4 separate regions of the Homo sapiens genome follow, and all the other regions are linked to region 1. Evidence: fine-mapped expression QTL. A gene starts in region 1. Each other region holds a variant in brackets. All regions are shown on one strand. Distances are between the middles of the regions.

What was found. PIP is the estimated chance that this variant, and not a neighbour inherited with it, causes the effect.
Region 2: its variant is the best candidate, but not a certain one, in a credible set for the expression of EIF4A3 in whole blood (INTERVAL, PIP 0.51).
Region 3: its variant is the best candidate, but not a certain one, in a credible set for the expression of EIF4A3 in whole blood (TOPMed, PIP 0.83).
Region 4: its variant is the best candidate, but not a certain one, in a credible set for the expression of EIF4A3 in fibroblasts (GTEx, PIP 0.85).

Annotation. Positions count from the first base shown.
Region 1 is chr17:80,143,587-80,151,409 of GRCh38, forward strand. EIF4A3 (eukaryotic translation initiation factor 4A3) reads right to left here and starts at 3,542. Exons shown (of 12, transcript NM_014740.4): 1 at 3,207-3,542; 2 at 586-658. The coding sequence starts at 3,375. RefSeq lists enhancers at 2,769-3,483, 3,484-4,196, 4,197-4,910, 4,911-5,623 and silencers at 3,121-3,170, 4,011-4,200.
Region 2 is chr17:80,171,405-80,179,227 of GRCh38, forward strand. CARD14 (caspase recruitment domain family member 14) reads left to right here. Exons shown (of 24, transcript NM_001366385.1): 2 at 1,502-1,824; 3 at 7,104-7,251; 4 at 7,700-7,823. Among named protein-coding and RNA genes, the nearest start is that of CARD14, 5.3 kb to the left of the region's middle. RefSeq lists enhancers at 6,527-7,027, 6,701-7,823. The variant A/T (reference allele first, on the strand shown) is at 4,408.
Region 3 is chr17:80,052,044-80,059,866 of GRCh38, forward strand. CCDC40 (coiled-coil domain 40 molecular ruler complex subunit) reads left to right here. Exons shown (of 20, transcript NM_017950.4): 8 at 6,451-6,608; 9 at 6,815-6,937. It overlaps LOC124904074 (a long non-coding RNA gene), which reads right to left. Exons shown (of 2, transcript XR_007065931.1): 2 at 6,223-7,442. Among named protein-coding and RNA genes, the nearest start is that of CCDC40, 19 kb to the left of the region's middle. The variant G/T (reference allele first, on the strand shown) is at 3,156.
Region 4 is chr17:79,204,728-79,212,550 of GRCh38, forward strand. All of the region lies in intron 4 of RBFOX3 (RNA binding fox-1 homolog 3), which reads right to left. Among named protein-coding and RNA genes, the nearest start is that of ENGASE, 130 kb to the left of the region's middle. RefSeq lists an enhancer at 6,420-6,930. The variant A/G (reference allele first, on the strand shown) is at 3,280.

The DNA.
Region 1 (7,823 bases):
TGGTGTGAGAGCAGAGGAAAAGCACAGTCTGTTTTTCCGAAATTGTGTTATATACAATTCCACATGCCAGCAAACCACTAAGCAAAGCTGGCTAAGAAAATGAAAGCCTTGGCCGGGCGCAGTAACTCATGCCTGAAATCCCAGCACTTTAGGAGGCCAAGGAGGGTGGATCACCTGAGGTCAGGAGTTTGAGACCAGCCTGACCAACATGGTGAAACCCCCGTCTCTACTAAAAATATGAAAATTAGTCGGGCATGGTGGTGCATGCCTGTAATCCCAGCTACTTGGGAGGGTGAGGCAGGAGAATAGCTTGAAACTGAGAGGCAAAGGTTGCAGTGAGCCGAGATGGCACCACTGCACTCCAGCCTGGGCAACAGAGCGAGACTCCATCTCAAAAAGAAAATGAAAGCTTTCCACAGTAGAGAACACAAATTTAAAAAAGTATTAAACCCTGTGGCTAAAGTCAGGGAAAGTGTTGGAACTGAGCGTGTACAAGCTGAGGGAAACAGTCATCCCAGAGCATCTAACTGCACTGCGCTGCCCAAATTTACATCCAGCCCTGCGCCGCACCCCAGGACAACTTACTGTGCGATGACATCTCTCCCTTTGATGATCTGCTTGATTGCTCGTTGCTGGATTGCTGATGGTTTTTCAAAACCTGCAAATAAAAACAAAAAATTAGCCCTCACCACAATGACAGCATAGAAACCCTGTACTGTGAGCTCCTCAGGGGCAGACATGGTTTGTTTTTTGAACCTGTCCTCCAGCCTAACCCAGTGTTCAACATAGCAAGCTCTCAAAACCCAGGGGCTCAATGAATTGGGCTGAGTGATTTCTACACTAACGTGGGATATTATTTGTAAAGACCAATCTCTATTTTTAAAAAACCACCAAATTGTAGAATATAGACAACAGTTTTGTTTAAAAAAAAAAAAAAATCTGGGTGTGCAGCATCTGGAAGTGTAAGTGCCAAAATGTTCCTGGCAGTTACTGCAGTAGAGGGGTGGAAAGAAACTTACTTTTTACTCTAATTACTCCCTTAGGTTTGACTGGATTACAAACAACCTATACTACTTTTTAAATTAAAAAAAAAAACAACAAAAAAACAGGAAAGTCACTCTAGCCATTGTTCTCTCCTACTAGCTAGCATTAAGTCTGTGTGTTGCTGACAGGTCTACAACTCTGTTTAACCTGCGTGGGTCACGCTGCAGGGTGTCCTATGTTGTTCTGTCTGGATGCAGCTCACTAACTACAACACCATCACACCATCTCTCTTGCAAAGCAACTACTACACCAAAGGGTGAGGCTATTTTGAAGAAGAACCACGTGTTTTTCAAGTAAATAAAATTTTATGTACAAAAACTCTATTTCAATTATTTTTTGGTAGTCTCTTAAATGTAGCTCTGCTCAGTTCTGGGGCATAGCGAAAAATAAGAAACAAAAGAAAATGTAGCACAATTTCCCATCTTAACACAAATGCAAATATAGCAGATGATTTAAACTCTTCATGAAGAGCAAGCACATAGATGGGAAACTAACAACAGTGTCTTAGGGCAGGGACTGCCTGAGTGCCAGGAAACCAGGTGGGGCTGTCAGCCTCACTGTGAGGCTGCCTGAGATGCTTTTTCACCACGCATCCTCAGCAACTTCGCTTCACTTTGTCCAAACTGTTGTGGCATCAAGAACTACAGGATACGGCCAGGTGGGGTGGCTCACACCTGTAATGCCATCACTTTGGGAGGCTGAGGCTGGTGGATCACTGAGGTCAGGAGTTCAAGACCAGCCTGGGCAACATGGCAAAATCCCCTCCCTACTAAAAATACAAAAATTAGTAGGACGTGGTGGCCCACACCTATAATCCCAGCTACTCGGGAGGCTGAGGCAAAGGAATCGCTTGAGCCCCAGAAGTGGAAGTTGCAATAAGCTGAGATCATGCCACTACACTCCAGCCTTGGTGACAAGAGCAGGACTGTCAGAAGGAAAAGGAAGAAAGAAAAGGAAGAGAACTACAGGATAAAAAATGTCCCTGTCCCAAGCATTAAACACAGGCCATTTATCCCAGATGCTGGTCATTCCCATCTATGTGCCCAACCCAACCTCTTCTCCAGGCTCTCCCTCAACTTCCTCACATCTTTCAAACATACCAAGAGACAGCTCCTGATTCTGACTCTCTGGAGTGCTGCCTACCTAGCCAAATGTTTGCAGCATCAACCACCGGTTACTCAAAACACTCCAACTCTCCTCCTTCTGTCACTCACGTTCAATCCATCAGCCAATGCTGTCAGCTCCCTGGTACTCCATCTCCAAGGCAGCACAATCCTCTCTTCCCTGAACTGCAGCAAAAGCTCCCAACTCTCTTGTTTCCTCTCCTGCCTTGCCTCGCCTCACCTCAAATCTACAGACACCCAGAAGAATCTTTAAAACTGTAAATGTGATCGTGTCACATAGCTACTTAAAACCTTCCACTGGCTTCCCACTAGATTTCTAAATGAAATTCAAATTATTCGTCACCCTACACGTCTTTGCTAGATCTGCCCCGACTAGCTCTCCAAAATCCCACCACAGGGGACTTCTTTCAGTTCCTGGAATGCAGCTGGCTAAGGGCTGCAAGGCCCTGGCACCAGCTGTTCCTTCTGCCCCAACTGCTCTTCCCTCTTCTCATAACAGTCTCCTTCATCCAGAACTCTGCTCAAATGGCACCCCCTCCTGCGAACCCCCTTACCTCTCTGCTTTACTAATTCTCTCCTCCTTCCCAGTCCCACTCTATTCAATTACCCCGCTTCAGGTTCTTCAGGTTGCCTGGGCAACCTGACAGTATGCTTTCCCCCCAAACGAAATTCAAAACCCGTAAAGGCGCAAACCCTTCCGGTTTACCGCCAAAACCCCAGTACCTAGAAAAGCTAATAGGTAGAAATCAGTTATCTGCTGAATGAAGGACGCTGAGGTGCCTCGAAGCGGCTGCAGCCCCCGACAGACCCAGCGCCGAGCTCTGCACGGGGGACACACACCGAAAGCGCCGACACAGCCAGGCGTGAGGGCGAGGACGGGGGTGGGGGTGGGGGTCGGACGTCACTGGCCCCCGAGCCTCGACCCTGACCACGACCTCCGGAGCGCAGGGCCGGCCCGGGAGTCACCAGTCTGGCCCTCAGCCCCCGGCTCGCCCCCGACTCGCCCCCGGCTGGCCCCCGCGGCCCGCGCCCGCTCACCGTAAGCGTAGATGCCCCGCAGCAGGTCCTCCCGCAGGCCCATGGTGTCGAACGTGGGGGTCACATCCACCTCCTCGCTGGTCTCGAATTCCACTTTAGTCATGTCTTCCTCTTTGAGCAGCCGCTTTCGCGCCGAGCCCGAGGTCGCCATCGTGGCCGTGGTCGCCATGATTCAGAGTCCGCGGAAGAGCACAGCGCGCGCCGCTGCCGACCTCGCTGCCGCTGCCGACCTCGCTGTGCCGCTGCCGACCTCGCTGCCGCTGCCGACCTCGCTGTGCCGCTGCCGACCTCGCTGTGCCGCTGCCGACCTCGCTGTGCCGCTGCCGACCTCGCTGTGCCGCTGCCGAGAACAGACGCCTTAAGTATGCGAAAGCGAGAGACGTGCGTGCGTACGTGCGTACGTGCGTACGCGCGACGCGGCCACGCCTCTGGGGGACGGGGCACTCTTCGTCACGTGAAAGGGAACTGGGCGTTTGCCGCAGGGAAAAGTAAGGTGTTTCTGCTCTCGCGCCATATGCAGTTCCCGCGGGATCTCGTTGAGGGCGGGGCACCCAGTTCCTTACGAAAGGGATGGAGGGGGTGGTACTTCTAAAGTTGGCGGTGTTTCGTACCGGCCGCGGGATTTCGCGGACTGGGGCGCTGAGGTTCTTTGAGCGGCGTGTGGACCTGAATTCCCTGGAAACAGGCTGGGGCCGCGAGGGGCCTCCGCTCCGGGCGGGGTCCCCAGATAGCCCCGCCTCGAATAAAAATGACGAGCACGGGTCCTCTCTCGGGCCCGCAGTGGGTGGACTGCGTCGCAGACCCGTAGTGGAGGCGCCCAGCTCGCCGGGGAGATTCGAGTGGAAACCCTCACGGCCGCCGGTGGTGGGCCCCGGCGCGGCGCTGGGCTCCGGCGGGTCTGCGCTGGGGAGGGCCAGGGCCCCTGAAGCCGGCGTCCCTCTTAGGGGACGCGCCTGGGTGTGTCTTCACCGTTTGCCTGGTGAGTTGGAGACAGGGTCTCGCTCCGTCGCCCAGGCTGGAGTGCAGTGGTAGGATCAGGGTTCATTGTAGCCTCCGCCTCAGCCTCTGGAGTAGCTGGGACCTCAGGCGCGCGCCACCACGCCCGGCTAATTTTTTAAATTTTTTTGTAGAGACGGGGTTGGGGGAGGCGGGGGTTAGGGTTGTCCTGGCTGGTCTTGAACTGCGGGGCCTCAGGTGATCCGCCTGCCTTGGCCTCCCAAAGTGCTGGGATTACAGGCATGAGCCACTGTGCCCGGCAAGCAGCTGTTATAAATAAAATACATGCTGAGCCTGCAATTTGCTCTTAATGAAGGCCACTTGTCAGTAGACGGTGCTGCTAATGCGTGTCCTGCAGCAAAGATAACCCAGACGGGATCATTTTTTAATTGCCCAGCAGAACTTTAACCAGTTGTGCATCTTAACCTGCTTTTTGTTTGTTCGTTTGTTTGTTTTGAGACAGTCTGGCCCTGTCGCCCAGGCTGGAGTGCCATGGCGCGATCTCGGTTCACTGCAGCCTCCACCTCCCGAGCACAGGCGATCCTCCCGCCTCAGCCTCCAGAGCACCTGGGACCACAGGTGTCCACGCGCAGCCACTAACCGCTTTCTTATCTGACACTTTAAGTGCTTCTTCGTACCCAGCTCCTCTAACGCCTTTTGAAGCAGCTCCATCATCTTTGAAGGGCAGTTCATGCTGTTGAGAATCATGTTTTTAACTTTGGGAAAATTGTATTTCCACGAGCGCCAGCTCTGTCCTTTTTTTTTTTTTTTTTTTTTTTTTTTTTTGACGGAGTCTTGCTCGGTTCGCCCAGGCTGGAGTGCAGTGTCGCGATCTCAGCTCACTGCAAGTTCTGTCGCCCAGGTTCACGCCATTCTCCTGCCTCAGCCTCCCAAATAGCTGGGACTACAGACACGCGCCACCACGCCCAGCTAATTTTCTGTATTTTTAGTATAGACCGGGTTTCACCATGTTGGCCAGGATGGTCTTGATCTCTTGACCTCATGATCCGCCCACCTCGGCTTCCCAAAGTGCTAGGATTACAGGCGTGAGCCACCGCGCCCCGCTATTTTGTGTGTGTGTGTGTGTGTGTGTGTGTGTGTGTGTGACAGAGTCTCGCTCTGTTCCCCAGGCTGGAGTGCAGTGGCGCAATCTTGGCTCACTGCAACCTCTGCCTCCCGGTTCAAGCGACTCCCCTTCCTCACCCTCCTGAGTAGCTAGGATTACAGGCATGCACCACCACGCCCGGCTAATTTTTGTATTTTTAGTAGAGATGGGGTTTCCCCGTGTTGGTCAGGCTGGTCTTGAACTCCTGACCTCATGATCTGCCCGCTTCAGCCTCCTAAAATGCTGGGATTACAGGCATGAGCCCGGTCCTGTCCTTTCTTATGGTCACAAATCTGGCTTGCATCGCTGGGCACATCTTTAATCCACAGCTTCTTTCTAGGAGTGCTTGAAAAGCTCTCCTTTTATGAAGGTTAATTTTAGTTAAAACCAGAGCATCCTGGCCAGGCCTGGTGGCTCACGCCTGTAATCCCAGCACTTTGGGAGGCCGAGGCAGACGGATCATGAGTGTAGGAGTTCGAGAACAGCCTGGCCAAAATGGTGAAACCCCATCTCTACTAAAAAAAAAATACAAAAATTAGCTGGCCGTGGTGACGGGTGTCTGTAGTCCCAGCTACTCTGGAGGCTGAGGCAGGAGAATCTCCTGAACCCCGGAGGTGGAGGTTGCAGTGAACCGAGATTGCGCCACTGCACTCCAGCCTGGGCGACAGAGACTCCATCTCAAAAATAAACAGAAAACCAGAGCATCCTTTTATCAAGAAGTCGGTGGATTGCAGTATTTCAAGGGTGAACAAGTAAATGCAGCCTTCTCCAAGAGTGAATCTCATTCTGGCACCAGAATTTATCCATGACAGATAATTGACCTTCTGATAAACATTCCTTGTAAGGATGCTGGTGTTACCCAAAATATTAAATATTTATAAAGCTGAATAAAATGTAAGTTCTGATACCTTCCTCACTCTACAAAGGATCATTTCGTGCCTCACACTGTTTGCCAGGCCGTGCTGTAGCGCTTTGTCGTAAAATACACACAGATTTCAATGACTTAACGTAGGAGAAGAATGTAAAATACCTTGTTGACTAAAGAAAAACAGTTAAGCTTTTAAAGAATTAAAGTTAGTTTTATTCAGAAGCCTTACTGAGGACCGTACATCCTGGCCCCAGCCCAGGAGCTCAAGCGATCCTCCTACCTCAGCCTCTCAAAGTGCTGGAATCACAGGTGTGAGCTACCAGGCCTCTCACCTTGTTCAAAGTTAAAATCTAATCCACAAACTGCTTAGATTTGTTTTCCTTCATATTTTTATGACTAGATGATCTAACATTTTACACCATTTTTCTGGAAATGTTGTTTATGCCAGGTGTCTGAACACACATCTTAAAGGGCTCTAACTTTTCTGGGGAGCAGTAGCTTTTTAGCCCAGAGTCTATGACAATGTGACAATGATGAGAGCTGCTGAGGTTTGCTGCAGTCTCTGGGTGAACGATGCTTTCTAGGGAAACAATGGGGCATAAAACAGACATGGGCTCTCCTGCCTTGAGATTAATCGCGTGAGATGGACCCCTCCCCAACACACAAACATTGTGGGACATGAGGTGCTGGAGACGGGGTTGCTCACCCAGAGCTTAATGGGTCTGTCCACCTTTGTGACCAAGAGGCCTCTTTTCTTAGAGGCTGAGGGGCCCTGGGATGATGAGGGTAAATCCACTTTTTAGAGCAGGAATCTCCAAACCCCAGGCCACGGACCAGTATCAGCACCTGTCTGTGGCCTGTTAGGAACCAGGCGGTGCAGCAGGAGGCAAGCAAGGGAGCTAAACTGAGCTCTGCCTGCTGTCAGCAGCAGCACTGGACTCAGAGGAGTGTGAACCCTGTTGTGAACTGCACATGCGAGGGATCTAGGTTGTGCACTCCTCATGAGAATCTAATGCCTGATGATGGGAGGTGGAATAGTTTCATCCCGAAACCACTACCCCATCCATCTCTGGAAGAATTTTTTTCCACCACCTGTGGAAAAGTTGTTGACGTGGCTAGACTTTGTGTCTTCACCCACATCTCATCTTGAATTGTAATCCCATAATCCCTATAATCCCCACGTGTCGAGGGAGAAGCCAGGTGGAGTAATTGAATCACGGGGATGAGTCCCCCATGCTGTTGTCTTGATAGTTGTCTCGAGATCTGATGGTTTTATAAGGGGCTCTTCCCCCTTTGCTTGGCACTTTTCCCTTCCTGCCATCTTGTGAAGAAGGTGCCTTGCTTCCCCTTCACCTCCTGCCATGATTGTAAGTTTCCTGAGGCCTCCCAAGCCATGCTGAACTGTCAATTAAACCTCTTTCCTTTATAAATAACCCAGTCTCGGACAGTTCTTTATAGCAGTATGAAAATGGAATAATACATTTGTCTTCCACAAAACCCATCCCTGTTGCCAAAAAGGCTTTAGAAAACGCAGTGTGGGTAGGTGGTGAATAGATGGGAGGAGACTCATGTTTTTGTCATGTAGGAGAGCAGCAAGAGCTCCTCTCAGGAGAAGAGGTTTTTGCTGTGAAATATGGTGCGTGCTTTT
Region 2 (7,823 bases), 28 kb after region 1:
AACTCTTGAGCTCAAGCAATCCTCCTGCCTTGGCCTCCAAAGTGCTGGGATTACAGGCCTGAGCCACTGTGCCCAGCCCTAAGGTTTTTTGTTTTGTTTTGTTTTGTTTTACTGTTAGGACTAACCCTTATTTACACTGGGACAAGTTACAAAGAAACTCCTGCAATTGTTAACTGCCATTGGAGACTACTGTAAGTTGCTTCATGGCAACTGCAGAAGGGACTAGTGACTTCTATTTAGCTCCACCCACTGATGCTTGAAGTTCAGTGTGGCTCTGGGGGCTCCAGAAGCCTGAGGGGCAGCTGGCTGGGGCAGTTGGCTGGGGTCTGGAGAGTTCTGCAGAGCCCCTGTCTTCAGCTGCTGGTGAGGCAGCTTTGGCTTGAGCTGCCCTGGCTTTCTGAGTTCAGTCTGATGGGAGGGCACAGTCAGCACCCTCAGACCCTCCTCAGGAGTCTTGTGAGGCTCGGGCAAGTCAGGGGCAGAGGGACAATCCAACTAGAGGACCCTCCCAGACCCGGTCGTTGCCACCTGGACCCAGCCCCAGGAAGGCACCCGAGAAACCTGTAGTCCTCGGCTGACCACCAGTCCTGGTCCTCAGGATATCCGCAGAGACCTGGCTGTCCAGAACTCCCAGGGTTTCAGCTGCAAGCTGGAGATGTGGCCCCTTGGCAACTCGATATAGTAAGATACTGGAGAGCGTGCCAGAGTGTCATTTGCTAGAAACAAACATTATACTGCGGTAAGCCCTAGTTTTTCAGTCATTGGCTCTTTGGCACCAACTTAATCACAAGGCCATTGGCCCCAAAGAAAGGCCTTGTAGGCGACTGTTTAGGGACACCTGTATTTTCCATCTGCCTTGGAACCTCTAGGCTCAGGCCGAATGCCTATTGAAGTAGATGTTTCGTAAGAGATTTGGGGGCAAATACTGGGATTTTATAAAGATGCTGCACTCTCCTTCACTAAGTAGAAAGCTGAGAAATCCTGCCCTGAGGGGAAGAAACAGTTGTCTTCCTGACTGATGCATCCTAGACCAGCCAAGACTTCCTCCCGCTTTCCTTCTTCTAGAACTTTCCCCACTTCAGCCAGTATCTGTCATCCCCTGGGCTCCCACCCTCTCCATGTGCCGCTTTCATCGGGGCTGAGGGGAGCAGGAGAGGAGACGTTTCTGCTGGTGTCCCCGCTGTAGCTGGAGGAGCTCGGCGTCGGCGTGCCTTCGCCTCCCCTTGCCATGATGCCCCCTAAACCGAGTCTGTATTGAGAGAGAAAGGTGGCACCGTTGATCATTACTCCAGGACAAGAGTCATAAAAGGACTGTCCCAGACAACCTAGGACCCCAGTGTTCTGTGGCGAACACTTCTAGGATGAGGCCCATCTCCTTCTCTGTTTCATCAATTGGATTAATTTTATTGTTTTCTAAAATAATGACTATGGTTTTTATTGAACCCATACTTGCTTATTCTAAACATTCTTTTTTTTTTTTTTTTTTTTTTTTTTGAGGTAGAGTTTCACTCTGGCTCCTAGGCTGGAATGCAGTGGCACCATCTCAGCTCTCTGCAACCTCCACTTCCCAGGTTCAAGCGATTCTCCTGCCTCACCCTCCTGAGTAGCTGGGACTACAGGCGAGCACCACCACAGCCGGCTAATTTTTCTATTTCTAGTAGAAATGGGGTTTCACCATGTTGGCAGGCTGGTCTCGAACTCTGACCTCAAGTGATCTGCCTGCCTCAGCCTCTGAAAGTGCTGGATTGCAGGCGTGAGCCACCGCACCAGGCCTAAACAGATTTCTTTACAATCTACCACCATGAACAGCAAGCATTAGCATTGGTGAGGAGTGTTCCAGAATCCCTCTGCTCTCTGCCTCTCCATTTCTCTCCCCCTCTCTTTCTCTCTCATGCACACACACACACACACACACACACACGCGCGCGCGCGCGCGCGGAATGACAGGACAGACTGATCGGCAGATTGGATGAATGGATGGATGGGCACATAGATTGAGGGACTCCCAGAGATAAACTAACACCATTTTATAAAAATGGTATCATATTCTACATGATTGAAATGTAAACTTTTAATTTTACTTAAATTTTAGTTCAGCTCAGATGTTGCTGGCAAAAGTTTTTTTTTATTATTTTTATTTTTTATGTACTGCTCCTTGAGGAGCTGGGCTAACTCATAGGCAGTGCATCCAGATTCGGCATTTTTTTTTTTTTAGATGGAGTCTCGCACTGTCACCCTGGCTGGAGTGCAATGGCACAATCTCGGCTCACTGCAACCTCTGCCTCCCAGGTTCAAGTGATTCTCCTGCCTCAGCTTCCCAAGTAGCTGGGATTACAGGCACACACCACCACACCTGCCTAATTTTTTGTATTTTAGTACAGATGGGGTTTCACTATGTTGGCCAGACTGGTCTCGAACTCCTGACCTTATGATCTGCCCACCTCGGCCTCCCAAAGTGCTGGGATTACAGGCGTGAACCATCGCGCCCAGCCAAAAAATATTTTTTAATTGTTAAAAATAATAATGGAATGCCAAATGTAGTAGAACAGTTTCACAATGACAAGAACTATTAGTTCCTAAAAAATCCCCAAGATTCAGATAAGAGATTACAAAAACCTTGATAAATTAGTGACATTATGTAAAATCAACAGTGCTGGGTTTGGTGGCTCAGACCTGTAATCATTGCACTTAGGGAGGCAGAGGCGGGAGGAGTGCTTGAGCCCAGGAGTTTGAGAGCCTGGCCAACATAGCAAGACCCCATTCTCCACAAAACGGAAAATACAATAAAATAAAATCAGCGTTTTGTTTTATTTTATTAATTTATTTGAGATGGAGTCTCGGTCTGTCTCCCTGGCTGGAGTGCAGTGGCGTAATCTCAGCTCACTGCAGCCTCTGCCTCCCGGGTTTAAGCGATTCTCCTGCCTCAGCCTCCCAAGTAGTTGGGATTACAGGCATGTACCACCACACCCAGCTAATATTTGTATTTTTAGTAGAGACAGGGTTTTGCCATGTTGGCCAGACTGGTCTGGAACTCCTGACCTCAGGCGACCTGCCCGTCTCTGCCTCCCAAAGTGCTGGGATTACAGGCGTGAGCCACGTCGCCTGGACTTCCTTTATTTTAGATAGCACAGGGTCATGGAAGATAAAGTGATGCCTTCCTTCCCCTACCCCCTACCCCGATTTCTACTGCTTGCATTATTTCTTAGGGTAAAGAATCTTCTTATTTGGCTGGAAGACTCTATTCCCACCGTAGTTTAGTCCTGGATGTGTGATTAAAGAAATCCAGTGGTTGCCCTGCGCTGAGAAGGACAGCCGGGCCTGGGTTCTCTCCTGGCTCAGTACAGCCCCCTCCCCACTCCTGCTGAGGACTCCCAGGGAAGCTGGAGGCAGCTCTGGGGCGTTTTCTCTGACTTCCCTAGACTTCTCTTCAGCTGCCCAAACAGTAGAGGGATGCTGAAGCCCTCTCTTCCCGCAGTCTGTCCCTAAGGGTTGCGCTGGCACCTGTGCCCCCAGTGCCCCTTGGCAGCACTCCTTTGGTTTCAGGGCTTGTCTGCCATTTTTCTTTTTTCTTTCTTTCTTTTTTTTTTTTAAGACAGGGTCTCAGTCTGTCATCCAGGCTGGAGTGCAGTGATGCAATCTCATTTCACTGCAACCTCTGCCTCCCGGGCTCAAGTGATCCTTCCACCTCAGCCTCCCAAGTAGCTTGGGGACCACAGGCTCACGCTACCATGCCCGGCTAATTTTTGTATTTTTTGTAGAGACAGGGTTTCGCCATGTCACCCAGGCTGGTCTTGAACTCCTGGGCTCAAGCGATCTGCCTGCCTCAGCCTCCCAAAGTTCTGGGATTGCAGGTGTGAGCCACCATGCCCGGCCTGCTATTTTTCAGTTTGTGGCAGAAAAGTTGTTTTCCTTTCCTCATTTTGTGGTTGCTGCTTTATTCACTTATTTATTTTTTTAACTTTTTAAAACGCAACATTTGGTTCATTTCACCAGGAGCTGGGGAGGGAGGTACAGGAGGCTGCCCTGATCCTTTGTTGGGTTTGATCTGGAGACTTTGACGTGACAGAGCGACTGCGCCCACTGGTTGTCCTCTAAGAAGGCGTGAGGGGAAGCCCAGACGCCTCTGCAGGAGCCAGAGACATTCCTAGGGGGTCACAGGGTCAGCTGAGGTGAACAGGGATTCTGGAATGAGGAAGCCAAGGGGATGGAAGGGAGGAGGCTGGCAGGGAAACGCCCAGAGCACGTGCTCCTGCCCGACACCTCCAGGCAGAGAACAGGAGCTGGCAAGAGAGGAACCCCGCTTGTGGTGGGGACGCTGAACAGGCAGGGCCTGGCTGGGATGGGGGCCCAGCCTAGGCTGAAAACGAAGAGAAAGGAAAGTGGGTGCCGGTGTCCCACGCACTGTGG[A/T]CCCCCAGCCCTGGCCCTGGGGTGGCAGGGGCAGAACCGGGCACTGCAGGGACCTCCTCAGCCCACCCTCCTCCTGCTTCCTGGCAGGGATGAGAGAGGGAAGCAGGAGGCAGGGTGGGATTGCCAGCTGCTCTCGGATCGTTTTTTTTTTTTTTTTTTTTTTTTTTTTTTTTTTTTTTTTAAAAACGGGATCGTGCTATGTTGCTAGGCTAGTCTTGAACTCCTGGGCTCAAGCGATCCTCCTGCCTCTGCCTTCCAAATTACAGGCATGAGCCACTGCACCAAGCCTGGATCTTTTTTTTTTTTTTTAAACAACTTTGTTGAAATATAACTCACGGCCAAACACAGTGGCTCACACCTATAATCCTAGCACTTTCGGAGGCTGAGGGGGGAGGATCACTTGAGCCTAGGAGTTTGAGACCAGCCCAGGCAACATAGTGAGACCCCCTTCTTTACAAAAAACAACAACAACAAAAAAAATGAGCCTGGCATGGGGGCACATATCTGTATTCCCAGATACTCCGGAGGCTAAGGTAGAGGATCACTTAAGCCCAGAAGACGGATGTTGCCGTGAGCTGAGATTGCACCATTGCACTCCAGCCTGAGCAACAGAGCAAGACCTTGTCTCAAAAAAAAAAAAAAAAAAAAAGGAAGAGCTATAACCCATACGGCACACAATTCACCCGTTTAAGATGCTTCTAGTGTATTCACAGATGTGTGCAATCGCCGCCACAGTTAACTTTAGGACATTCCATCATCTGTAAAGGAAACATCCCCTACCTTTAGCTACCATCCTGACATCCTGATAGACAGGGGGCCTGAAGACCCCTCGGTGATGCAGGGCAGGGCTGGAGTGGGGGCCCTGGGCTGACTTTATTGCTCGCTATTGCTGCCTTGAAATTCTGAATACGTTTTTAAAACAAACGCACCATCCTTTCATTTTGCCCTGAGCTCCACAGACGATATAGCTGGTCCTGAAGTGGGGCAGAGGATCATTCTGACTTGGAGTCAGACTCTAGCGACGCAGGCTTCTACTGGGTGGAGGCCCAGGAGCTCAGGAGCCTTCTGTGGGAGTGTGCCCATTGGCAGCGCATCCCTGGAGATGGACGGACAATTTCCACATCGCCTTTGCCCCTGTGCACGCTCCCTCTGGCTGCCGTCATAAATTACCACAAACTGGGTGGCTTAAAACAACAGAAATGTATTTGCTCATGGTTCTGGAGGCCAGAAGTCCACACTCCAGGGGTGAGCAGGGCCGCACCCCCATGAAGGCTCCAGGGAGGGTCTGCTTCATGCCTTCTCTTGAGTTTCTAGTGTTGCCACCGACCCTTGGCGTGTCACTCCAGTCTCGGCCTCTGCCAACATGGGGTGATCATGGGGTGTCTAGGCCTAGGGCCCTTCTCCTCCTCTTCTTCTTCTTCTTTCTTTTTTTTTTAAGACAGGGTCTTGCTCTGTCGTCCAGGCTGGAGTGGAGTGGCACTACCTCAGCTCTGCAACCTACACCTCCCAGGCTCAAGCGATCCTCCCACCTCAGCCTCCTAAGTAGCTGCGACTACAGGTGTGCACCACAACACCTGGCTAATTAAAAAAAAAATTTTTTTAGGCCAGGTGCAGTGGTTCATGCCTGTAATCCCAGCACTTTGGGAGGCCGAGGCAGGCGGATCACTTGAGGTCAGGAGATCGAGACCAGCCTGGCCAACATGGTGAAACCTTGTCTCTACTAAAAATAAAGAATTAGCTGGGCATGGTGGCATGCACCTGTGATCCCAGATACTCAGAAGGCTGAGGCAGGAGAATTGCTTGAACCCGGGAGACAAAGGTTGCAGTGAGCCAAGATTGTGCCATTGCACTGCAGCCTGGGAGACGAGCAAGACTCTGTCTCAAAAAAAAAAAATTTTTTTTTAGCAGATTTTAGCAGAGACAAGGTCTCACTGTGTTGCCCAGGCTGGTCTCAAACTCCTGAGCTCAAGCAATCTGCCCGCCTTGGCCTTTCAAAGTGTGGGATTACAGGCATGAGCCACCACACCCAGCCCTTCTCCTCTTGTTATAAGGGCACCCATCCCTGGACTAGGGCCCACCCTAATGACCTCAACTTGATTACGTTGGCAGAGACTTATTCCCAAATGAGGTCCTACTTACAGGTACTGGGGGTCAAGACTTCAGCATTCTTTTGCGGGGGGCCACAATCAGTGACACCCTGACTCGCAAGCCTCAATCACCTGTTCCAGTGAGAAACAGGACTGAGATCAGAAGGAATGAGGCAGAGCTGCCCTCGATTGGTTCTCCTCTCCTCCTCACCTGCCCACCCCGGCCTCTGCGCCCGTCACTGTCCTCTCCAGCTGTTCTTCCTTCCGGGCAAGGAGACTCAGCAGAAGGGTATGAGTGGCCTGGCCCTGTGGGGAGCCGCAGACAGGCCTGTGGGTGCTTTGGATAACTACTGCGCCTGTCAACTCTCCTTGGTAGTCTAGGGTTCAAAGCCCAGGTCCATTCTAGAAGTCTGCTTCCAAGTGCTAAGGAAGCTTCAATAGTTACTGGGAAAACCACAGGGGTCAAAGGTCCGTCGAGTTATTTCCCGGATCCGAGTCTGACGTCTTTTCCCCGCCGCTTGCGGTGGTTGTGACCGAACCTTGAGTTTTGGAACAGGTCACATGGCTTTGAAATCACGGTCAATTCACCTGGTGCTGCTTTGACTTCAGGCTCTTCCTTCTGCCCAGCTCCGTCCCACCCAGCAGCCCGCAGAGAAAGGAGGCAGCTGGCACCACACTGGGCTTTGGAGACACTGCGGGGACTGTGGACCCCACCCTGCTGCACGGAGCTCCTGCAAAAGCAAACCTGAGAACCTTGGTGAGTACTTCCGGAGACCCGGCTCCTGGGACGGCTTCTGGCGCTGCTCCTGCACACACGACTCTCCAACGATCATTTTCCATGTTTTATTTTTATCTTTTAATTTTTGAGATGGAGTCTCACTCTGTCACCCAGGCTGGAGTGCAATGATGCAATCTCAGCTTACTGCAACCTCTGCCTCCCAGGTTCAAGTGATTGTCCTGCCTCAGCTTCTCAAGTAGCTGGGACTACAGGCACCCGTCACCATGACTGGCTAATTTTTGTATTTTCAATAGAGACGGGTTTCCACCATGTTGGTCAGGCTAGTCTCAAACTCCTGACCTCAGGTGATCTGCCCGCCTTGGCCTCCCAAAGTGCTGGGATTACAGGCATGAGCCACTGGCCCCGGCCCATTTTCCATTTTTCAGATGACAGGTGTTGATTTGCTCTGATTTTCAAGTATTTTTAGCATACAGATCCCTGCAAGAGGCATCTGTCTCCAGTGGTCCAGCCTCTCCTTCCAAATGAAAAGAATCAAGTCACAGGAATTCATGGGTCTGTAAGGAATCGCTCCCATCTGTGCCCAGGAGATT
Region 3 (7,823 bases), 92 kb before region 1:
TGACCGGGGGGCAGCCACCACTGCACAGTCCCTTAGGTGAGACGTGGGTCCTGGCCCCTGGAGAAAGCCCACGGTCACCTGCCTCATCTGGGAGGGAGACTGTATTAGGGTTGTCTAGAGGGACAGAACTAACAGGATAGATATATAGAGAAAGGAGAGTTTATTCAGTATTGACACAGGATCACAAGGTCCCACAATAGGCCGTCTGCAGGCTGAGGAGCAAGGAGAGCCGGTCTGAGTTCCAAAAATGAAGAACCTGGAGTCCAGTGTTCAAGGGCAGGAAGCATCCAGCACAGGAGAAAGATGTAGGCTGGGAGGCTACACCAGTCTCTCTTTTCACATTTTTCTGCCTGCTTACACTCTAGCCGCACTGTCAGCTGATGAGATGGTGCCCACCCAGATTGGGGGTGGGTCTGCCTTTTCCCAGGCCACTGACTCAAATGTTAATCTCCTTTGGCAACACCCTCACAGACACACCCAGGATCAATACTTTGTATCCTTCAATCCAATCAAGTTGACACTCAGTATTAACCATCACCGACACTAAACCTTCACACCAAAATGAGTTACCAACCCGAGATCCCCAGACCTGAGAGGAGACTGAGCCGGACAGACAGGCAAACCCAGCCCTGATTCTAAAAACAGAGCATGCGGAGGCACCAACTGGTAGTCTCATGAGATTTTAGAGGACGTTGTATCCGTAAAGAGAACAAAGTGTTAGGAAGAGGGGTACGTGAAATTTAAAAATATAATCATCATCCCAGAGTGTGCAGAGGCGCCAACTGGTAGTCTCATGAGATTTTAGAGGACATTGCATCCATAAAGAGAACAAAGTGTTAGGAAAAGGGGTACGTGAAATTTAAAAATATAATCATCATCCCCCCAAAAGGCACTAACTAGACAAATGAATGCAGTTGAAAACTGAATTTCTTAACTAAAAAGCCAGTTCGAGGAACCTTCCCTGGAAATAGAGCAAAACCCCAAATGATTGATATCTTGAGGAGGAGGTAAAAGACATGGACGACAGATTAGGGAAATCGAATCAGTGTCCGAAAGGGAGATTTCAGGAGATGAGAGGCAATAGCCAATGTCCAGGAGAACAGATGCGTGAGTTCAGGAAAGACGAATCTGCAGATAGAAAGACTCGTGACGGGCCATGCAGCTGAAAGAGAAAATAAACCTCCGCAGACATAGCTGGTGGGATTTCCAAATACCACGGCAAAAGAAAAAATGCTGCAGGCTTCCAGGCGGGAAAACCCAGATGGCCTCTTGAGGCCGGGCCTGGGCTACGCTTTCATCAAGGCCTCCATCAGCTGCGCCTTGGAGGAACCAGGGAGAGCTCAAAACCACCAGGACCTATCCCAGCCCAGATTTCAGATTGGTTTGTTCTGGGAAGGACCAGGCATTGTTTGTTTCTGGCTTTCTTTTTGACCCTTAAGCTTCCAGATGATGCTAACTTGCAGCCAGGGCTGAGAATCACAGATCTTAAATTTAAATAGCAGGATGTCAATGCATACAGAATTCAGAATTCTCTTTTTTGTGTTTTTTGTTTGTTTGTTTGTTTGTTGAGATGGAGTCTCTCTCTGTCGCCCAGGCTGGAGTGCAGTGGCGTGATCTCAGCTCACTGCAACCTCCACCTCCCGGGTTCAAGCGATTCTCCTGCTTCAGCCTCCCAAGTAGCTGGGACTACAGGGGCCCGCCACCATGCCTGGCTAATTTTTGTATTTTTGTAGATAACGGGGTTTCACCATGTTGGTCAGGCTGGTCTTGAACCCCTGACCTCGTGATCCGCCCACCTTGGCCTCCCAATGCATACAGAATTCTAAGGGAGAAGGATGGTTAGCATTTGACCTACATGTCAGTTAGACTCTGGAAATTAACAACAACGGGAAGTCCACGCATGAAGACTTCTGGCTGCAGCCAAATCTGCTCAGACAAAACCCATGACAGAGTTTATTTACATTTCCACAAACAAGCCTGAAAACAGACATTCTATTCGAGAAGCTAAAAAGAGGGAAATAAACTGAAAGAAGCAGAAAAATAAACCAATAAAGATCAAAAGCAGAAGCTGATGAAATAAATAAAAAATGAATTGACTTGATAAATAAACTGCTTTTTTTTTAAATGACCAATAAACCTTACACACTGCTGGCTTATCTGGCAATAAAAAGGAGATCATGCAAGTAACAGTGTTGGGAATGAGGACAACTTGGGGGAGGGTTTTTTTTGTTTTGTTTTTTGTTTTTAATTGCAAGAAAGCTATGCATTGTACTGGTTTCATCATGCAAGAAATTGAAAATGTCAAAAATCTGTTTTCCCTAAATGCACCAGTATTGGAAGATGTTATGGAAGGCTTCTAGTAACCTTTCAAGGAACAAACACTTCCTGTGTTATCAAAGCTCCAGGGCATGGAAGATTCCGGAAACTCCCCACAGGCTGGTCCTGCAATGCTTAGTGAAAGGCTGGCTGCAAACGCTGACAGCATACAAGCAGGAAACTGTAAAGCGGCCCCACATGTGAGGAGTGAAAATCCTGAACAAAATGTTAGCAAAAATAAGTAGGATTTACTTCCAGAATTCACACAGGAATAATTCACAATTAGGAAATCTACTAATTTTGTGCATTATATTTATAAATTAAAGAATGGAGGCCGGATGTGGTGGCTCACGCCTGTAATCCCAGCACTTTGGGAGGCCGAGGCGGGCAGATTACCTGAGGTCAGGAGTTCGAGACCAGCCTGGCCAACGTGGTGAAACCCTGTTTCTACTAAAAGTACAAAAAATTAGCCAGGTGTGGTGGCAGGCACCTGTAATCCCAGCTACTCAGGAGGTTGAGACAGGAGAATTGCTTGAGCCCAGGAGACAGAGGTTGCAGTGAGCCGAGACTGTGCCACTGCACTCCATCCTGGCCAACAGAGTGAGACACTGTCTCAAAAAAAAAAAATAAATAAATCAAATAAAACAAAATACAAGGATAAAAAAAAAAGGCTTCCTGGGTGGGTGCCAAATGGGTATTTAATAAAACTCATCATCCATCCCAAAGTAGGATAGAAGGAGAGTTCTAAGTATTTATCAGAAACTAACAAGAAAATGTTACCCAGTGGAAAGACTAGACTTAAAATCAGGAATGAGATGAGGAGGCCTGCTAGCATAGCA[G/T]TTACCCCAGACTGTTTTGGAGGCTCCAGCAACGCAAAGAAAACAAGAGAAAGAAATGAGATATGGATCTGGGAATGAAATACTGAAATTCTCAACCTCTACTAATGAAAAATAAAAGCCAATAGAAACAGTAAGAAATCAATAAAGTAGCTGGATACCAGCTCTGTAGTTTTCTTCTACACCAGTAATATAGTTAGGAATTACAATTTTTAAAAAAGCTCATTCATAATAGCTATAACAACTTTTAAATAAGTCCAGGAAGAAATCCAACAAGGAATGATGAGCCTGTCTGAAAAAAAACAATAAATGTTATGAAAGGTCATAAAACAGATTTAAATAAATGGAGTGCCCACGTTACCAGCTGGGAAGACGCATGATATAAAAATGCCATTTCCCTCCAAATTAGCAATAAAACCATTGCAATTCCCGTTACCCTCCGTGGTGAGATGTTTTGGGTGAACTTAAATTTATTCAACATAATTATTTACTTATTTTGGAAAAGTAATGATTCAAAATGCAAGAGCTCTACAACTAAGAGGAAGTTTTCGTCTCTTTTCCCCTTCCCCCACCCAGCCACCAGGGCCCTCCGCAGAGGCAACGTAGATTCTTGTGGATTCTTTTTGTTTTTGTTTTCTTCGAGACAGCGAGACGCATCTTGCTCTGTTTCCCAGGCTGGAATGCAATGGCAGAGTAGCCTCGAACTCCCAGCCTTAAGTGATCCTCACACCTCAGCTTCCCAAGTAGCTGGGACTACACACACACCACCAGGCCTGGCTAATTTTCATATATATATATATATATATATATATATATATATATTTTTTTTTTTTTTTGGTAGAAACAGGGTCTTACTGTGTTGCCCAGGCTGGTCTCCAATTCCTGGGCTCAAGTGATCCTCTTGCTTCGGCCTCCCAAAGTCCTGGGATTACAGGCATAAGCCACTGTGTTCAGCCCTTGTGGAGTCTTTTGGAGATTTTTTGCATATCTAAGCAAAGTCACAAGGGTGTGTGTGTATGTGTATCTCTCTCTCTCTCTTTAACTTAAATGGCTGCATATTATACCCACTGCTCGGTTCCTCGCTTGCTGTCCCTTAGCAACACGTGCTGCGGATATTCCACCTCAAAACAAAAAGCACCTCGGGCCAGGTGCGGAGGCTCACGCCTGTAGTGTTGACACTTTGGGAGGCTGAGGCTGGCAGATCGTTTGAGCTCAGGAGTTCAAGACCAGCCTGGGCAATGCGGCAAAACCCCATCTCTACAAAAAATACAAAAATGAGAAATTGGCCGGGCATGGTGGCATGTGCCTGGAGTCCCAGCTACTTGGGGGGCTGAGGTGAACCCAGGAGGTTGAAGCTGCGGTGAGCTATGATTGTGCGACTGCACTCCAGCCTGGGTGACAAAGTGACACCCTGTCTCAGAAAACAACAAGAACAACAACACTTTATTCTCAACAAATTGATTTTAAAGTTCATTTAGAAGACTAAATGCACAAAAATATCCAAGACAATTTTGAAAAGGAAGGATAATGAAAGAAATATTTAAGAATAATAACAAGTCCTTAGCCAGGCCTGGTGGCTCACGCCTGTAATCCCAGCACTTTGGGAGGCCGAGGCAAGCGGATCACAAGGTCAGGAGATCGAGACCATCCTGGCTAACATGGTGAAACCCCATCTCTACTAAAAAAAAAAATACAATTACTCGGGCGTGGTGGCGGGCACCTGTGGTCCCAGCTACTCAGGAGACTGAGGCAGAAGAATGGCGTGAACCCGGGACGCAGAGCTTGCAGTGAGCCGAGATCACCACTGCACTCCAGCCTGGGCGACAGAGTGAGACTCTGTCTCAAAAAAAAAAAAAAGAAGAATAGCAAGTCCTCAAAGAGAACTTAGAGGAAATTACTTTGGAATTTAGCTACTGCAAGCTATATTAATGCACAGGTTGCTTTTTTTTTGAGACAGAGTCTCACTTTGTCACCCAGGCTGTAGTGCAGTGGCATGATCCTCCCACCTCAGCCTCCTGAGTAGTTGGGATTACGGACGTGCACCAACACATCCTGTTAATTTTTGTATTTTGAGTAGAGACAGGGTTTCACCATGTTGGCTAGACTGGTCTTGAACTCCTGGCCTCAAGTGATCCGCCCACCTCGGCCTCTCAAAGTGCTGGGGTTACAGGCGTGAGCCACCACACCCAGCCAAAATGGCTTTGCAAGTTTAAGCTGTATCCTTCGAGCACACCTGGCTCCAGGATGATATGCGTCCAGCAGCCTTTTGGCCTGTAATTCAGTTTTCTGTTTGGATCCAGCCACTGAAAGGGAGTGCTCTGTGCAGTGAGCAAGCAAGTACTGACCCACGTGTAGCTCCCTCAATAAATTTGCACTCCAGCTTTAGAAATCCATCTCATGGCCGGGCGCGGTGGCTCATGCCTGTAATCCCAGCACTTTGGGAGGCCAAGGTGGGTGGATCAGGAGGTTAGGAGATGGAGATTATCCTGGCTAACATGGTGAAACCCCGTCTCTACTAAAAATACAAAAAATTAGCCGGGCGTGGTGGCGGGCGCCTGTAGTCCCAGCTACTCGGGAGGCTGAGGCAGGAGAATGGCGTGAACCCTGGGGGCGGAGCTTGCAGTGAGTCGAGATCGCGCCACTGCACTCCAGCCTGGGCGACAGAGCGAGATTTCGTCTCAAAAAAAAAAAAAGAAATCCATCTCATGCAAGTTTTGTTAAAGGAATCAGTTCCTCGGGCCTTGGCCTCCTCTGAGAGCACTGACATAAATCTGTCACTTAACTTGGGACAGGATGGAAGCTGCTGCCTCTTCTAGCCTCGTCCTCTCTGGCCTGCACTGCTGTGCAGCGGTGTCAGTGCAGGGGCATCTGTGGAGCTCAGCCTGCCCTGGATGTTCTCGTCTCCTCCCAGGGGACTTAAGACTCCACCTAAGGTTGCCAGCCTTTCAGTGGTAAGACATCTATGCAATCAACCCGAAGCCTTACCACCTGGCACTACTTCAGTGTATCCTTAGACTACCAGGAGGATCTCTGAGACTTGGTGGGGAATGGAACAGCTTGCTGCAATTTGTGGATGTAGATTCCGTATATTTTTGTCTCTTCCAAGAGACTGTAAACTCTTTGCTGACAAAGTCTGTGTCTTGATAGTTTAAAAGCAGTTTCCCAGTCTTACCCAAAAATGGCAGGAAGGGTGCCCAGAACGGCTGTTCCCTGCTTCCTCCTGGGTCTCTGCATGGGGGACGCTGGGACAGCCTCCCCACTCACTCTCTCTCTCTTTCTCCCCCGCCGCGCCCCGCAGTGGCGGCTCTGCAGACTGAGATGGAGAACTTGGCCCTGCATCTCTTCTACATGCAGAACATCGACCAGGACATGCGTGACGACATCCGCGTGATGACACAAGTGGTAAAGAAGGCCGAGACGGAGAGGATCCGGGCAGAAATCGAGAAGAAAAAGCAGGTATTCTGCAAACTCGACACATGTTTAATGATCACCAGACCGTGGAGCTTCAAAAAGGGGCTCAGCTTTGCCTCCTGCGTGAAGGCTTCCGGCCGGAGGGGTGGCGGCCGGCCTGGGTGGCGTCAACTTGTATCAAGGGTTGGTGGAGAACAGGCCCTCAGCCACGGGCACCTCCTGACGGGGCTGCTTCTCATCCTGTTTCCCAGGACCTGTATGTGGACCAGCTCACCACTCGAGCCCAGCAACTGGAAGAAGACATTGCCCTGTTTGAGGCTCAGTACTTGGCCCAAGCTGAGGACACCCGGATTTTAAGGAAAGCAGTGAGTGAGGTAAAAGCAGTCCCCGCAGCTCTCAGTGTTCGACCCTCCAGTGAGTGTCCACGCACAGGGTGCTGGTGGGTCTACTAGACTGCACCTGCCCGTCTGCTGGATGAGTGACTGCAGCCAGCTTACATCTGCAAACATCGGGCCCTCCCCATGGTGGGGCCACAGTAGATACTGACAGGTGGACAGCCCGGATTCCTATTCCTTCCCTGGCTAGTGGGTGACAGAAGGCCTCGCAGGGTTCAGGTACTCTAGTCGCTTCATGACCGCCAAGGCCAGCTTGCTGCGGGGATGCTCAGCAAGTTCCTTAGCCTGCAGGGACCTCTTCCGGGGAGGACTGAAGTCTTTCTAACAATTCTCACCCCCGTGGGCAGCCGGCCTTCCGGGTAGCTCCTACATCTCTGCACCTCGTGGAGTAGGGAGTGGAGGGAACGAAGGGGGTGAAAGCTGCTCCCTCTTGGCCCCAGATTCAGGTCTGTAGTGGTAGCACCAGAAACCAAAGTTACTGCAACTTAAAAAAAAAAAAAAAAAAACTATGAGTCACCATCTTCATTCACGGGTGCGGGAATGACACGGAGGAAACAATTAACTTTTTTTTTTTTTGAGACAGAGTCTCGCTCTGTCGCCCAGGCTGGAGTGCAGTGGCACAATCTCAGCTCACTGCAACCTCCGCCTCCCAGATTCAAGCAATTCTCCTGCCTCAGCCTCCAGAGTGGCTGGGACTACAGGCGCCCACCTCCATGCCCAGCTAATTTTTGTATTTTTAGTAAAAACAGGGTTTCACCATGTTGGCCAGGTTGGTCTCAAACTCCTGACCTCAGGTGATCCACCCACCTCGGCCTCCCAAAGTCCTGGGATTACAGTCATGAGCCACCGTGCCCAGCCAATGAAA
Region 4 (7,823 bases), 940 kb before region 1:
GGAGATGCTGCCACTAACTGGGCTCCTTAGTATCAGTGAGGATGAGAAGATTCTAGAATAGCAGGGGCCAGATAGTTGCATTTAACCATCAGAGGCAAGTTGGAATTAAATACCACCGTGGTCAGCCAGGCTTTGGAGATGACCAGGGTGCTTTGAACTACAGAAGTCTGCAGCTAATAAGCCATGGTGTTCCTGGGGATGAAATGGATGGGTGGCCAAGTAGGGTATTGCTTGGCTTATATAGCCAGGAAAAAATCAAGAGCTAGAGAGCAGAGAACTCCTCAGTCATCACAACGGGAAACTGCAGTACCATATCCAGTTCCAGGTCTAAGGCAGTTCTCCAGTCAGAGCCCACTGGTGGAAGGAAGACCAGGTAGGGCTTAGGAATGCACTGCAATATTTATAATGATAGCATCCCCATCCTTCCCCAGATGGACCTGTGGATACTTGCCAGAGAACCTGTGTCCTGGGGAAGGGGACTAGCAGAAGTTTTGCAGGCAGGAGGATACATGGTTAGAGCAGACACTGATACCTGTGAAATGAAAACACCATCATTTCTGCCAGTTAGAGTGGGGGTCCACAGAAACCCAGGGATATATGACATCCTGAACCACATCCATCTTACAGCAGGTCTGTCAGGCTCATGGACCCATCCTGTGGTTTGTTCTCTGGTCTCTGAGTCTGCATTTGGATGGCTACACTTAGCATCTAGCATAACCTGAATATGAGTTCCCTGACGTAGGAGTGCCAAATGGGAGCCTATAAAACCTCCCTAACCCCCAGCTAAGACAGGAAATCAGAAAAAACAGTACACCCCAGGGAACTTGCAAAAATTATATCCACTATCAAATACTTAAAGGAAGCAAGGATGAGGTCCCCATCCTATCCTTGTTCAATTCACCTACAAAACAGAACCCTACAAAAACCAGATGAATCAGAGTGGGTGATGGTGGATTACTGGAAACTTCACCAAGCAGCAGCCTCCAATTATTCACAGCAGTGTTGTATTTACTGGAATAGCTCGACAGAGCCTCTATTACTTGGTATATGGTGATTGATATGGAAAATGTATTTTCCAGTCCATGTCCATAAAGAGTCAAAAGCAGTTGGCTTTTTTTTTTTTTTTCCTTAAAGTAGTTTGCTTTTACATAGGAAGGACAGCAATACACATTTCCTATCTTGCTGCAAGGCTGCAATCATTCTCTTGCTCTTTTCCACAATATAGTCTGCAGGGACCTTGGCCGTTGTGACATTCCAGAGAATATGCTCATCCGATACACTGAGGAAATCAGGCTCATTGAGCTAGACGGGCAGGAAGGAGCAAGTCCAGCTAATGCCTGAGGAAGACCTGTGTGTCAGAGGGTGCGAGGTAAAGCCTAGCAAGAAGGTCTACAGCTTGCCACGTCAATGAAATATTTAGAGTCTGGGGCTTTCTGGAACATCCCCTTGAAGATCATGTAAAAGCAAATCATTGCACTCCTTCCACCAAGAGAGGGGCACAGAACTTGGTGGCCTCTTTGGATGCTGGAGGCAGCAAATATTCCCCTTGGGAATACAGCTCTAGCCTAACACTTCCAAAGGCTATCCGTTTTGAGTAGGTCCCAGAGCAAACGAGGGCTCTATAGCAGGTCCAAGATGCAGTGACATCATCCCAGTGGTGCCCGACGTACACTGTGGCGGATAAGGCTGTGTGAGGAGTCTCCGGCAAGTCTCATTGAGAGACACAGCACTGACTCCTCAAGATGGTTGAGGCTGGCCGTCATCTTGAAGACTCTGTGATGAGCTGGACATAGTACAGGGGTGCAAGAAGTGGGCGGGAGCGGATGCCTCCTGTGTCCACCTTGTCTCCTCTAAGCCCTGCTTTTCACTCCAGACTTTGCTGCAGCCATCAGCTGTCCACAGATGTAGCCTGAAGACAACTTGACTTAGTGAGTCTCTCCAGGCCACCACTGCTCAGCTGTCCCCTGGCAGGAACAAACCTGAATGTGCCGGCCAGTTAACACCCCATGGTGCACCCTGCGCTGTGGGCTATGGCAGCTGGTGGATGCAACCTTCCCTCTTCTATCCCTCAGGTGGGCAGCTCAGAAAGTGCCTTCTACACCACTCCTCAGAGAAGTCCTAACTGGATTGAGTCTTGGAACCACTCCCCATCTCATTGACTCAATAGTACACCTGGAATGGCTTTCTTCCTCCCCATTTCACTTTTCCCAGCCCCCTTTCCTTTGGCTCATTTCCCAAAATAAACCTCCTGCATGCAAGCCCTTGTCTCAAACTCTGCTTTGGGGAGAAAACTCTAGACTAAGACAGACAAGATTTGAAATCTGAAGTTTCCCATGCAAAGAAAAAAGCCATGCAAGTTTTCTCTGTTTGCCTGTCTCCCCAGTAGAAGAGTTTCCAAATGCTTACTGGGTTAAAAGTGCCTCTGCCTAATATTATAATTAGTAGGGTTGTTTTACGATTCAGAAAACAGAGGAAAGTATGAAGAAGATTATCACCCATGGTCTAATGAGCTTATTGGGCTTAATGGTTCATATTTAACAGGAATGAAACGCTCCTTTCCCATGTCACCAGGACAGGTACAGAGTTGAAACTTCCTCTCCATGTGCCCAAACTCACTGCTGGACCTGAGTGAGGCCCCCAGTGTCCCTCGATTAGCCACCTGCTCAGTGGCCTGAGGCCAGAGTCAGGGAGCTACGGTCAGAGGTGCCTGGATGCTGCTCCACCCCTAGCGAGGCCTGCACTGTTCCCAGCGTGGCACCAGGGCCCCTTGCAAGCTTTACCAAGAAGCCTCTCGGGTTATTCCCTGTGGCCAGGCTCGGGCTGGGTCCCTGGGCCTATGGGCTGTGGGGTCAGCCCACTGGGCAAAGGGATCTGGGATTTCTTGGGACAAGCTCCAGGAACAGGAAACTTTGGAACACGCCCTCCTCTCGCGGGCCTAAGCTCCCTTCCCTTTTCTAGGGGGGTGTCTGCAAGTCTCTGTGCTGCCCTCTGGGGAGGACTGGCCTTCAGGAACTTTCCCGTCGGCCACTTGGAGACTGGGGTGCACACCAGGGCACCTCCAGGCAGCGCCTCCTGCACGCTCACACCTCCTTTCCCTCCCCTTCTCTCTTCTTGCTCATCCTCAGCTCTTTTGCGGCCAGCCAGTCTTGCCCCCAAAAGGAGGAATGGTTATTTCTTTAGCTATACAATTAATCAATGTTTTGGCCCTTTCTTTTAAAACAGTATGGGCCACAAGTCCGGGACCGCGGGAGCCTCGGCAAGCCTCGGCTGGGCTGGGTG[A/G]AAGGTGGCCCTTCTCTGGCCAGCTCTTGGTGTCTCCCTCCCTTTGTTCTCCCCTCACGCCCTTCTTCCTGCGTCTGGAGGGAAAGGCTTATTTACAGTCACTGCAGAAACACTCCCTCTCCCCTCTGTTGGTAGAACCACAACCAAGCGGATACAGCAGAGCTGAGATGCTGCTGGCAGTGCGGGTCTCCAGCTGTCAGCCCCGAGCTGTGGCTCTCAAGACAGGATTCAGGCACAGAACCAAGACTCTTGGTCCTTCCTGCCCAGCCAGGCTGTCTCTGTCACACACACACCCGGCCAGGCCATCCCAGCCAATAGCCAAAGGCCTCGACCGCCTGGAAACCAAAGGGGCTCCCCTCGGCCCTCCAAGCAGTCCGGGGAAGGGGTGGGGCTGGGAGTCAGTCGGGAAGGTTGGGTCAAGGAAGAGAAAAGAGGCACTTGCCTTCTGCTGGGGTCTCCAACCCCTGGCTGACTTCTCTCTTGGGATGACTTCCAGCTTCTGGCTGTTTCCCCAGGTGGTATCTTTGAAAACACGGTCAGCTGTTCATCTTCTCATGGAAGTGTGGGTGCCAGGCAAGTGGCATTGAGCAACCTTGAGTGAAAGATGCCCACCTGGCTGGTGGAGGCCCTTCCCGGGCAGAGGCAGAGGCAGAGGCAGAGGCAGAGGGGAGGCTCTTGGTGGAGAGATGTTGTCTGAAGCCAGAATTATTCTGACCGTGTCCCCACGCTTGCTCCTAGGGCCCTGCTCCTGCCTTAAGGGGCCCCACAGGACCTCACTCCCATCTCCACCCTGGCTGCTCTTTCTCTCTTTCTTTTTTTTTTTGTTTGAGACGGAGTCTCGCTCCGTCGCCCAGGCTGGAGTGCAGTGATGTGATCTCGGCTCACTGCAAGCTCTGCCTCCCGGGTTCACGCCGTTCTCCTGCCTCAGCCTCCCAAGTAGCTGGGACTACAGGCACCCGCCACCACGCCCGGCTAATTTTTTGTACTTTTTTTTAGTAGAGACAGGGTTTCACCGTGTTAGCCAGGATGGTCTCGATCTCCTGACCTTGTGATCCGCCTGCCTCGGCCTCCCAAAGTGCTGGGATTACAGGCGTGAGCCACCACGCCCGGCCCCTGGCTGCTCTTTCTGTACGTGCCCATTCCTCCCCTCTCCCACCAGGCCACCCATGTGAGTTGTGGTTGGTGATGTGGCTGGGCCAGCCCTCCTGCACAAGGCCTTCTGTGATGTGCCCCCATCCCAGGAGCAGGCCAGTGCCTCCTTCTGGGTGCCCACATTGTTTGAACCCCATCACCATGTTTGCACCTGCTCTGTAACTATTAATGCACAGCTCCGGGACCTCCCAGGGGGCAGGGACAAGGCTTCATCCCTGTTGTGTCTCCAGGGCTGAGTGTGGCAGGCAGGACAGAGGCACTCGGGACACACCCATTGAACCAAACGGAACTCCCACTTCCAAAGCACCATGGAACAAAATGTGGCCGGCACCGCAGGTGTGGCCTCTCATTCCCCATACTGGGGACTTGACTTTCTCCTCCTCTAGGCAGTGAGCACCTCTGCAGAGAGATGAACCACCTCGGTACCCCAGTGTCCAGCATAGGTGTCTGCACATAGTACCTGTCCCATAAAAATAAGCAGGACGAGGTTGCCTGCAGAGACACAGCAAGAGGTGGGGTGCATGGCTCACATGTGCTATGAAAGGACGGCGCTGGCCGGGCGTGGTGGCTCATGTCTGTAATCCCAGCACTTTGGGAGGCGGAGGCGGGTGGATCACGAGGTCAGGGGATCGAGACCATCCTGGCTAACATGGTGAAACCCCGTCTCTACTAAACAAAAACACAAAAAATTAGCCGGGCGTGGTGGTGGCCGCCTGTAGTCCCAGCTACTTGGGAGGCTGAGGCAGGAGAATGGCGTGAACCTGGGAGGCGGAGCTTGCAGTGAGCCGAGATCACGCCACTGCACTCTAGCCTGGGCGACAGAGCAAGACTCCATCTCAAAAAAAAAAAAAAAAGAAAGAAAAGAAAGGACAGCGTTTCTGTGTGCGCACAGAGGCGCCTTAGCAAATCCTGCAAAAACAACAGACACACAGGCTCAGCTTCTGCCCTGGCTAGATAACCTCTGGAGCCCGAGGGAAGAGTGTACCTGCCTGGGGGGAGGGATATGGAGTGGGGAGTGCAGGGGGCCACCCGGTTAGGGCAATGGGCAGGTGCCTGGTCAAGGAGGGAGGCTATTCTTTTGTGAACTTTTTTTATTTCTTCAGTGTTTTTTCAGAGTTGGACCCCCGGCGTCTTCACGCTAATGCCACCGTCTTCATTTCTCTCTGGCTGCATCTGCTCTTCATCTCCATGCGGTTATAGTTTTCACCTCGCTGTAATCAGGGGTCCTGCTTTTTCACTTGATGATATACAGAGACGGCTTCCCTTGTACGGGGACTTCCTACCCATCAGGTCTCACGGCCGCACAATATCCCATCGAGTGCCCGCCGCATACTTCACGTAACTATCCCTTTACGGCGGACAGGTAAGATGATGCCAGAGGGGTTTCTTCTGCTGCTATAAATATCTTGGCACGTCCAGCTTTTTTCATCTTTTGAATTATTTCTCAGGGATATGGTCCCGGGGCGGGATTATGGAATTGAAGGGTCGGGTGGCTCTTGTCCTGTTCTGCCAGTTGCCCTTCAAGAGATGGGGCTGGGGTAGGTGATGTGGAGGAGTGCCCTACCACCCTCCATCTGCACGTCTGGTGCCTGGTGGGGATGTGCAGCATGGGCAGAGGGTGCAGCCCGCAGCAGGAGCTCCCAAACACAATGAGGGTGCCGAGTTTTGGAGTTTCCAACACCTTCTCCAGCGTCCGGTGATCTCAGTCCTGGTCTCCTCTAGGCAGCGAGCAGTGAGCACCTCTGCAGAGGGATGGGCCACCTCGGTATCCCCAGTGTCCTGCACAGGTGTCCGCATATAGTTCTTGTCCCATACAAATAAACAGGAGGAGGTTGCCTGCAGAGACACAGCAAGAGGTGGGGTGCGTGACTCACATGTGCTATGGTGTGCGGCTTGGGCAGAGGGTGCAACCCACAGCAGGAGCTCCAAAACACCATGAGGGTGCCGAGTTTTGGAGGTTCCAACACCTTCTCCAGCGTCCGGCGGTCTCAGTCCTGGGCCACGGAGCAGACGGTGGGAACACAGGCTTCCTGGCAGGCAGCACGGCCCGATGCGGGCTGGTCTGGTGGGTGGCTGTGGCTTCCGTCGTGGGGAGGCACAAGCCCTGAATCAGGATGCTCATTTTGGCACACGGCAGCCTGTGCCTCTGACCCTGCCAACGCCAGCCTCCGCCACCTCCTGCCCGCTCAGCCTCCGGAACCATGAGCAGGACGTTCCAGATCCGAGCTGCTGACAAGCCACAGCAGGCAGGAAGATAAATGGAAGGGTCCTTAATCCCAACTTCTTTCCATAATTAAGTTTTGAGATCATCGTATGCTGAACCCAGGTTTCAGCAGAGCTGCTGGGACTGGCTCCAGGTGGACGCTGGCGTGCAGTTAACAGGGATAGGGGCCGTGTCGCTGCTGCCAGCAGCCTGGGAGAGCCCTGCTACTCATCCCCTGCGGATGCCTCCTTCCCACGCTCAGACTCCGGGGGGCTGGACAGACAGGGAGGCAGCTGCAGATACCCCAAGGTCAGAGTCCCAGGCTCCGGCAGGGCTGTACCCCGGTCCATCTCCAGCCCTGACTCCTCCAATCCTAATATGACTTCTCACTGCTGGTTGGGGCATTTCTAGATCCCTTTACCAGAACCACTGGTAACTCTCCTCAAAGCAACCACAACGCTTTGCCCTGGTCCTCCCTTAAGCCCTGGACTTTCGGTTAGGCCCTCTCTTAGCACCTCTCCTGGTCACCTGGGTTGTGCCAGGCTGACTGCTGGGCACGGGGATACGTGGGGGGGAACAAGACAGATGAGACCCCTGCCCACAAGGAACTCCCCCAGCGGGCCCAGGAGGTTGTGGCCAGGCCAAGCTCCCGAAAGCTCTGGTCTCCTGGGGTCTTGGAAGACAACCAGCCAGCACCCTCCCTCCTGGAGTCCCGCTGCATTGGGGAAATTGACCAGCGCCCAAAGACGGGCCCACCTGGGCATCTTCGACCATGCCAGGGACAAGACAGCAGAAAAATGGCCCCAGGGAGAAGGGCTGGGGTCTCTGGACTCTTCTCCAGGAAAACCTTCAAACTCTAGACACCCTTGGCCACCCGCTGCCCTGGGTTCTTCCAGGCTGGGGCTGGGGCTGGGGCAGGGCTGCTCCGCCTGGGCTCCTACGTGACTCCTTTCTCCTCCTCCCCTCCCCATTTGCCTGGGAGGAAGGAAGGGGCCGCACTTGCTCCAGCCTCTCTGGCTGCTCCTTCCTTCCCTCCTGCAGCCGGGCTCCTGGCGCTGCCCGTTCCCAATTTCTCCTTCCTGTAGGACTGCTGCAGGGGCCACCCTGTTTTTAGGGGGTCGGGTCTCACCCTGGGCCCCCCAGTCCGCAACTCCTGACTCCTTATTCTGCACTTCCTTCCTTGTTCTTC